Linked DNA regions of Homo sapiens. The protein of the gene in region 1 binds, or shares a complex with, the protein of each later gene. Each region holds a gene or a part of one and is shown on either strand. Other genes may lie near its edges.

Evidence for each region. The genes of interacting proteins can lie anywhere in the genome.
Region 2: the proteins of GPR161 (region 1) and GNAS are in contact, whole or in part, in a cryo-EM structure (PDB 8SMV), measured with the Homo sapiens proteins. Residues at the interface, in NP_001254539.1 of Homo sapiens: Arg125, Ala128, Val129, Leu130, Pro132, Met133, Met137, Ile211, Val214, Ala215, Lys218, Ala219, Lys267, Ala268, Thr271, Ile272, Trp327; in NP_000507.1 of Homo sapiens: His41, Lys216, Val217, Phe219, Phe376, Cys379, Arg380, Asp381, Ile383, Gln384, Arg385, His387, Leu388, Tyr391, Glu392, Leu393, Leu394.

What each region holds. Positions count from the first base shown.
Region 1 is NC_000001.11:168,084,592-168,088,775, reverse strand, and holds part of GPR161 (G-protein coupled receptor 161), read left to right. Parts: intron 1-1,071; coding exon 1,072-1,191; intron 1,192-2,979; coding exon 2,980-3,245; 3' UTR 3,246-4,184. UniProt on the Homo sapiens protein: Key negative regulator of Shh signaling, which promotes the processing of GLI3 into GLI3R during neural tube development.
Region 2 is NC_000020.11:58,901,421-58,904,920, forward strand, and holds part of GNAS (protein GNAS), read left to right. Parts: intron 1-2,107; coding exon of another isoform or gene 2,108-2,110; coding exon 2,111-2,165; intron 2,166-2,251; coding exon 2,252-2,371; intron 2,372-3,500. UniProt on the Homo sapiens protein: Guanine nucleotide-binding proteins (G proteins) function as transducers in numerous signaling pathways controlled by G protein-coupled receptors (GPCRs).

The DNA.
Region 1 (4,184 bases):
ATCTGGTGTGAGTCTCAGCCCTGCCCTTTGTTCGCTGTGTCCTTATCAGGAATGATGGCCCTCAATTTAGCCCCTGCTGTGTGCAAGCACTATGCTAGATGTTTACATGTCTCAACTCAAAATCCCCACAACTCCGTGAGGTAGACTGAATGATGACCCCAGGTTTACAGACGTGGAAAGATACTGAGGCATTAAATAACCTGCCAGTGATCCTAGGTCTGTCCGACCCAAGCCTGTGTGTTTAACCACCATATTCTACCTCCCAAAGGACTGTTTCTTCTCTATGTCGGGTAATCACACCTCTGCGAGGTGCTCTGAAACAGCATCTAAAGAGCTCCAGGTTTCTCTTTCTTCCTTATTTTCTGAGCTTCAAGGCCTTTATGGATTGAAAGCTGGAAGCTAAGAACGGGGCTGGATCTGACACTGGTCCTAGTGTTGGGGAAGGGCACTGTTGAGTGATGGGTCCCATCTCAGCTCTTCCTTCCCTCCCTTCCCTCTGCCCCATTCCCTCTGCCTGCTCTGCCCACCTATCTCTAGTAGGACTTCCCTGACCTTCTCCCTTTATTTCCCTGCTTTTTAGGGGAAAATTTGTCAATTATTTTTTGATCCCCAAAGAACTCTACATTTTGGAGCTTTACATGTTTATTTAGTACAACATATTTTAACTGTGGTGATAGAAATTCAGACTGTAGGAAGAATCACTCAGAATATAAAGTTCCTTTTAGTAGGACCCTCTCCTCTACTCGGCCCTTCTCCCCACTTCCCTTCCATGCTGGGCCGGCAGATGCCATGCTTCTGGGGTCTGGTCATTGAGGCAGATAACCCCCTACTTCAGATAACTTGGCTGCATTTTTTGTGTGGCTGACGCAGCCCCACCGGCTGTCTGCAAACTCCCTGAAACAGGATGACAGGCGGGTGTTTCTTGGGCACGTGCTGCGGCGCAGTCAGCTCCACTTGATGATGGGTTTGGATGAACGGGAGAAGAGGGGTGGAAGGGGTGTTGAGAGGGGAGAAGAGGCCAGGAGGACTTTAGATTGTAGTTACATATGCACAATCTGCCCGTTGTTTTAGGGACAGATATGATGCTGCTTGAGGACTACACGTCTGATGACAACCCTCCCTCTCACTGCACTTGCCCACCCAAGAGAAGGAGCTCGGTGACATTTGAGGATGAAGTGGAACAAATCAAAGGTTGGCTTCTGTGACTGATTGCTTCAAGAAAACATAGGGAAACGGAAAGGATCTTAGGACAATTCCTTGGCTCAGGCTGGCTCCCATCCCGGAATATATCAGGGCTCCATCCCTTTGCTCACTCCCTGGTTACTCCCAGCCCTGTTGGTCTCACCTGAGTCCTTAGGCACCCAGTTCTCAGAGCAAGCAGCATCGAAGGCTGGGCAAACAATGGCTGTCAAACTCCACACACACACACACACACACACACCCACACGTGTTTACACACACAGCCCAGATCCTGGGTGAGGTATGGTTATAACTGAACCTGCTTTCCCTGAGCCTCAGTTTCCTCCTGTGGAAAATGAGATAATGGCCCAATGAGTGTATCTGCTTTGCTGGAGGCCAAAGCTGCCATCTTGCTTGTCCGTCGCTCCTACAGCGGTGATGGCCCTTGGGTCCTGTGAGGAGAATGAGTTCTGCCGCAGCCCAATCCCTACATTTTTCTACTCTATATCTTCCCCGCTCACCCCCAGGGACTGTTGTTTACTCTGGAACTTGGAATTCGTTTCCCATCCAGACATGCTGATTAGGAGAGTGACAAGAGCCATCCAGATACCAATATGACTGGGCTGTGGATTTGGTGGAGTCCAGGGGCTGTCCGATGTAAGGAGGCTCTTCAGAAATGTTGAATATGGAAATAAATATGGCCTCTGTCAGAGTTTTAGGTTCATAATTAATCACATCTCTTCTCCACACCCCTCCCTGAGTTCAGAATGAATGGAGAGGTTGTTACAGAGGTCAGAGGTGGAAAACAGTTCATTCGCTTCACTGGCAAAGCAGATTATAGAACAGAGCTTGGGCCAGCAGCCTCATGGGCTTTATAATATATTGCCTTTCTATAGGAAAAAATGAACTAAATGCTCCCCAACCCCCCAGCCCACGTAGGGCCACACTTGCCCCATCAGTCCTGCTTTGTGAGTGTGGCAGCTCCAAAGGCACCCTCCAGGTGGTGCAAGAGCAAGGCACTGCCAGGGGGTCCTCCCCTGCCATGAGTGAGTGGCAGGGCAGAGAGTGGCTGGAGGTCCCTCCAGTCTTTCCCTCTTGGAGAGTGGGGTACAGGTTGCCTACTTTCCAGAAAATGTAAGGAGGAGAGGATAAATTGTTCCCCTGAAATGTCCAGAGAAAATAGGCAATGAGTTAATAATAACAGGGAACAGGGTGTGAAATTGAAGGGCTCCCCCCTCTCACTTCTGTTCGTTTTAGTTTAGGGCTCCTAATCCTGGGAGGGGGCTTGAACCTGTAATGTCACGTCCAACCTTGAGGTTCTGCATGGGGAATCTCTGAGCAAATATGGAGAGGAGAGAGATGACATTAGGGTTTGTGGAAGTTTTGTTACACTGCTTCAGGGAGCTCAAAGACCAGAATACTCTTTCAAAGATGTAAAAATGTTGATTAGCATTAGTAGAAAGTATTTATCAAGTCTTTTCTATGGGCCAGACATAGGCCAAACATCTTAGAAAGAATTATCTCCTTTAGTTATCACAGTAACTTCTTGGAGTAAGAGGTATCTTAATATCTTCTCTTTACAGATGAGGAAACTGAGGCTAGATTAGATACTTTTTCCAAGATTTCCCAGGTAGGAAGTCAGGGAGTCAGCTTTTGGTCTAGGAATGGAACTTTGAAACCCACGCCCTTAACTGCGGTTTGTCTCCCTCCCCGGGGTGGTGGAGCAGCAGCAGGCTTGTCCCCAAGGTAGTCCCCAGGCCTGGCTCCTCAGCTGACTTTTTTTTCTGCCTTCTCCCTCAGAAGCTGCCAAGAACTCGATTCTTCATGTGAAAGCTGAAGTACACAAGTCCTTGGACAGTTACGCAGCAAGCTTGGCCAAAGCCATTGAGGCCGAAGCCAAAATCAACTTATTTGGGGAGGAGGCTTTGCCAGGGGTCTTGGTTACAGCACGGACTGTCCCGGGGGGCGGCTTCGGGGGCCGCCGAGGCAGCAGAACTCTTGTGAGCCAGAGGCTGCAGTTGCAGAGCATCGAAGAAGGAGATGTTTTAGCTGCCGAGCAGAGATGAGGGCCTCAGGGTGCCGTGGGGCTGCAGCCTGAGAGGCTGGCCCGGGGAGGAGTTCCCATCACCGCCTGTGCCGCGGCCTTGGGAGCATGTCACTGTGTACAGCTGGCCACACACAGGGAAGGAGCAGCATCTGGTATGCAGCCACCAGGACAAGGACTGAAAATAATGTCTACAGTCCACAGCTTCAGCATTTCCAGAGACCACATGTGAGCTTCTTTTAGGTCCCAGTGATGGGACCAGAAGCATCTAAAGCAAAAAAAAAACCAAAAAAAAATCTAGAGATGTGGCTGTGGCTTTTTGGGAGGTGGGGCATGGGAGGACCAGAGACGAAGGGCTTGGAAGGAGACCCCCACATGCATCATTTCCTCCTCTTCACAGTGTGCTGGGAGTCCAGCCGTGCACTGTGCCAGATGCCTCAGGAGGAGAACCCTCCCCAGTGTACTGTGAAGGATGACACAGCACTTCTTCCTAATGACACGCGACCGTCCTGGTGCCTCTACATGGTTGATGCGGGCAGTGTGGGACCCTCAGTTCTAGGACTGGTCCGCAGAGAAAGCACCCAGGAGCAGAGCGCTTCGGAGCGGTCCTCAGTGGCGCCACCTGCTGGTGCTAATAGGGACAGCCACAGGCCTCTTGCAGACTGGCCCACCCTGCCTACTTCCCTACTGACAAGTTCTTTGGTATTTCAAAAGGGAGAAACCACTATAAAAGACAAGAGGAAGGGCAGGTACTAGGTGTTTCATTTCCAGAATTAAAAAAAAAATCCATTTAAGACGTACCACTGTTTTACCGGACTGAATGGGACTGTAGTGCCAAGCACAGCCAGGAAATAGAGAAACTGTTATTATGGAAGGGAATTTGTTCACATGGGAAAGCCTCATTAAATAGATTCTATGTGTGATGTTTGAGTGACCAATGAAAATAGCTGGCCTCAGTTCT
Region 2 (3,500 bases), on another chromosome or scaffold:
GCCAGAATCAGATTTCAGATTTGTACACAAGGCCTGAAGCTCGCTCACCTCCCTGTCATCTGTGTTTCTGAGATTCTCCGGACCTGCAGCACTTTTACTTAAATGGCCCTGAGGGGATTCCTGGCAACATCTGTCCCCCCTCCCCACCCCAGACACCCCCCACCACTAATGAGCGTGGCCCCTCTGAACTTCCCCAGCTCTTCACCCAATGTAGAAGAGCAGTGGTGCAGTGACCTGTGAAAGGGGCTTCACGTAGGAAGGGGGCGAGATGGGATCCTTCAGCAGGTGAAGGCCCAGAAGTACACAGACATTTATTCAGAAAGAATAAATTTGTAAGTATAATTCTTTGAGAAAGGAAAGACCAAATGATTTGTGGAAGGCCTGTCGACAGGCCCGCACTTGACCCCACCGTCCGTCCCCGCCCCCCACCCCTGCTGCTCCACTGACTGCCCTGCCCTGCTCGTCTGCTCGTCTGCTCTTGCTAATTAACCTCCCTTCGCCTTTCCTCTGCCTTAACTGTCGTGTTCTAGTCTGGAGAGATTATATGTTTTAATTTCTACTCCAGTCTATGAATTGGTGAATCAGCCAAGTGAATGCTTCAAAAACTGGGACTCTCAAAAGATTAAAAAATATATATATACAAACCGTGAAAAAGATAAACTCTGTCCCCTCCATCTCCCATTGGTTTCTGCCTCGGTGACTCCCCCCCTCTTGGCCTCAGTTTCCCTGTCAGAGAGGCAGGACCGTAGCACCTTTTTTCCGCATGACAACGCCCTCACCTCCCAGGGCCTAACAGGTACAGCAGGTGTGCTGTGTGTGCTGGTTCCATTTTTGGGCTATAGACCTGATGAGATACATACTCCACACAAGAGGCCTTTTCTTGCCCTCTAAAAACATAAACTCGAGAACCTTCCCTGGCTGTGCTTCTAATGAAGGCTAGTTTCTGAAAAACATACAGCATTTGGATCAGTGTAATGTGGTACAAAAATTAACATTCTGTTATGGTCCCCAGAAGCCAAAGGGTGTGTCCTTTACCTGTGGGACCAGTGACCCTGAATATAGATCATTCCATAAAGACCACGCAGGCCATCCCATGTGGCTGAGTTAAACTCAAGGAAAAGCTACAAAACCTTCAACCTCTACTTACCAGAGGGATCTGACCTCCCCTCCCCCTTAGATTATAAGGCCTTCTAGGGGGTGGAATCTTATTTGATTCCTATTGCACATGGACCAACATGCACTAACATCATGAACTAGAAGTTTCATTGCTGCTAGCTGCAGTGCCTGGAGCATCGCACATACGACTTTTTTTTTTTTTTTTTTTTTTTTTTTTGACAGAGTCTCACTCTCGCCCTGGCTGGAGTGCAGTGGTGCCATCTCAGCTTACTGCAACCTCCGCCTCCCGGGTTCAAGCAATTCTCCTGCCTCAGCCTCCCTAGTAGCTGGGATTACAGGTGCATGCCACCATGCCCAGCTAGTTTTTTTGTGTGTTTTTAGTAGAGACGGGGTTTCACCATGTTGGCCAGACTGGTCTCCAACTCCTGACCTCAGGCAGTCTGCCCGCCTCAGCCTCCCAAAGTGCTGGGATTACAGGTGTGAGCCACCGCACCCGGGCTCCTGTAATGAACTATTATAAACACCACCACCTGTGCTCACTGGTTCTCTCAGTATGCTAGCAACTGAGTTAATTCCAAGTCAAACCATGGGACTGTTTTGTTCCACCCCAACCTCATAGTGACCTATCACTCCAGCCTCACCCCTACCCAGATGTTGATAGGACCAGGAGAAGCCTTTAGGAAGTGTTAGTATGTAGTGTGGGGGCTTCAAACCCATGAAAGATTAAATGAGCTGCATGCAACTTCTGGTACAGTCATGATTGCTAAGGCAATTTGCTAATCTGCCCCGATTGGGCGTGTCCTCAGGGCACATTTGGGAGGTTATAATTTGCAACTATGTTTATTCAGCTACCTCCAATCTTTGCACAGATCCGAACCCACAACTCCCTGAAGAACAGAATACTATGCTTTTTAGTCGGGATGTCTTTATGAAAGCAGTACTCCTAACTGACATGGTGCAATATGATTTTCTTTTCTTTTCAATCCCACTGCAGTGAGAAGGCAACCAAAGTGCAGGACATCAAAAACAACCTGAAAGAGGCGATTGAAGTACGTGCTGGCTCCTTGTGCTGTCTGTCTTGTAGCGCCCTCCCAGCCAGTGCTGTTCCCTGACCGCTTTGCTAAATCATTTTCAGACCATTGTGGCCGCCATGAGCAACCTGGTGCCCCCCGTGGAGCTGGCCAACCCCGAGAACCAGTTCAGAGTGGACTACATCCTGAGTGTGATGAACGTGCCTGACTTTGACTTCCCTCCCGTAAGCTACACCCCGACTTGTGTGGCCTTAGCCCCGCCCACCTGAGCACAGTGTCCATATAGGAACATGAGTGACAGCCCTGCACATGGGCAGGAGCATCCAAACCACACTTCAGGCAAAACTACATTTCAGTGATGTCCATCCTTAGGAAAAAGTTAATTTCATGTGTAACCTTAATTTAATAATAATAATCATTAGGGCTTTGTTCAAGATGGATGAGCAAAATTCTGTCACCCCTTCTACATCTTAGCTCACCTGTCCTCACAAATAAACATCACTCTTGAATACTACAATCTCACTTTATTAGATTGTAAATTTTTATGAGGAAAAAGGTCCTGAGCTATGGCAGGCTTAATTATTCCCTCATTCACATCTTAGGACAAAACTGTATGTTAAATATGGCACACAAATACTAATTGTCCATTTACTCCACTGGAAGTGCCCTAAGGTACCTTGGGATGCCTCAGTGAAGTGCCAAATGGAAGACATTCTCATTTTAAACAGGTGACCTTTTTATTAAGAGTTTTCTAAAGTCCTTGGGGCAAATGAAATCTTTTCTCATTATTAAAAAAAATGAAATATATCTAAATCATAACTCAAAAATCATAAAATAGAACATATGGAAAAGACTTTCCTCTGGATGCACGACACTGTTGGCTCCCTAAAGAACTACTTTTAGGGAACAAAAAACTGTTCAAGCCCAAGCATATAAGTTTAGGCCCCTTCGTGGGGAGAATGGCTTATAAGCGGGGAACGGGAAACGAGATGGAAAGATGTATGCGTTTGTAAGACCCACAGGGAAGAGACTTGTCTACAGCTAAAACAATGAGTTATTGTTGCCTTTTGTCAGGCTTTCGTGGGAATTTGTGTTTGTATATTTTAGATGGACTTGGCTGCAAACTTAAATTGGAGAAATTTAGTGGTATATAGTTAGTATGGATAGCTAAACTTTTTAAATAGCATTATTTTGAAAAAAAAGCAATAAACACAATATGTATAATATAACCCACTGACTTTCTTGAAATATGATTCTATATTTAATAGGAAAAGGAAACAGCAGCCTATTAAAAATGTATCAGAACAATAACTTTTTATTAGTCCTACTAACATCTGAACTTTTATGTTCCTA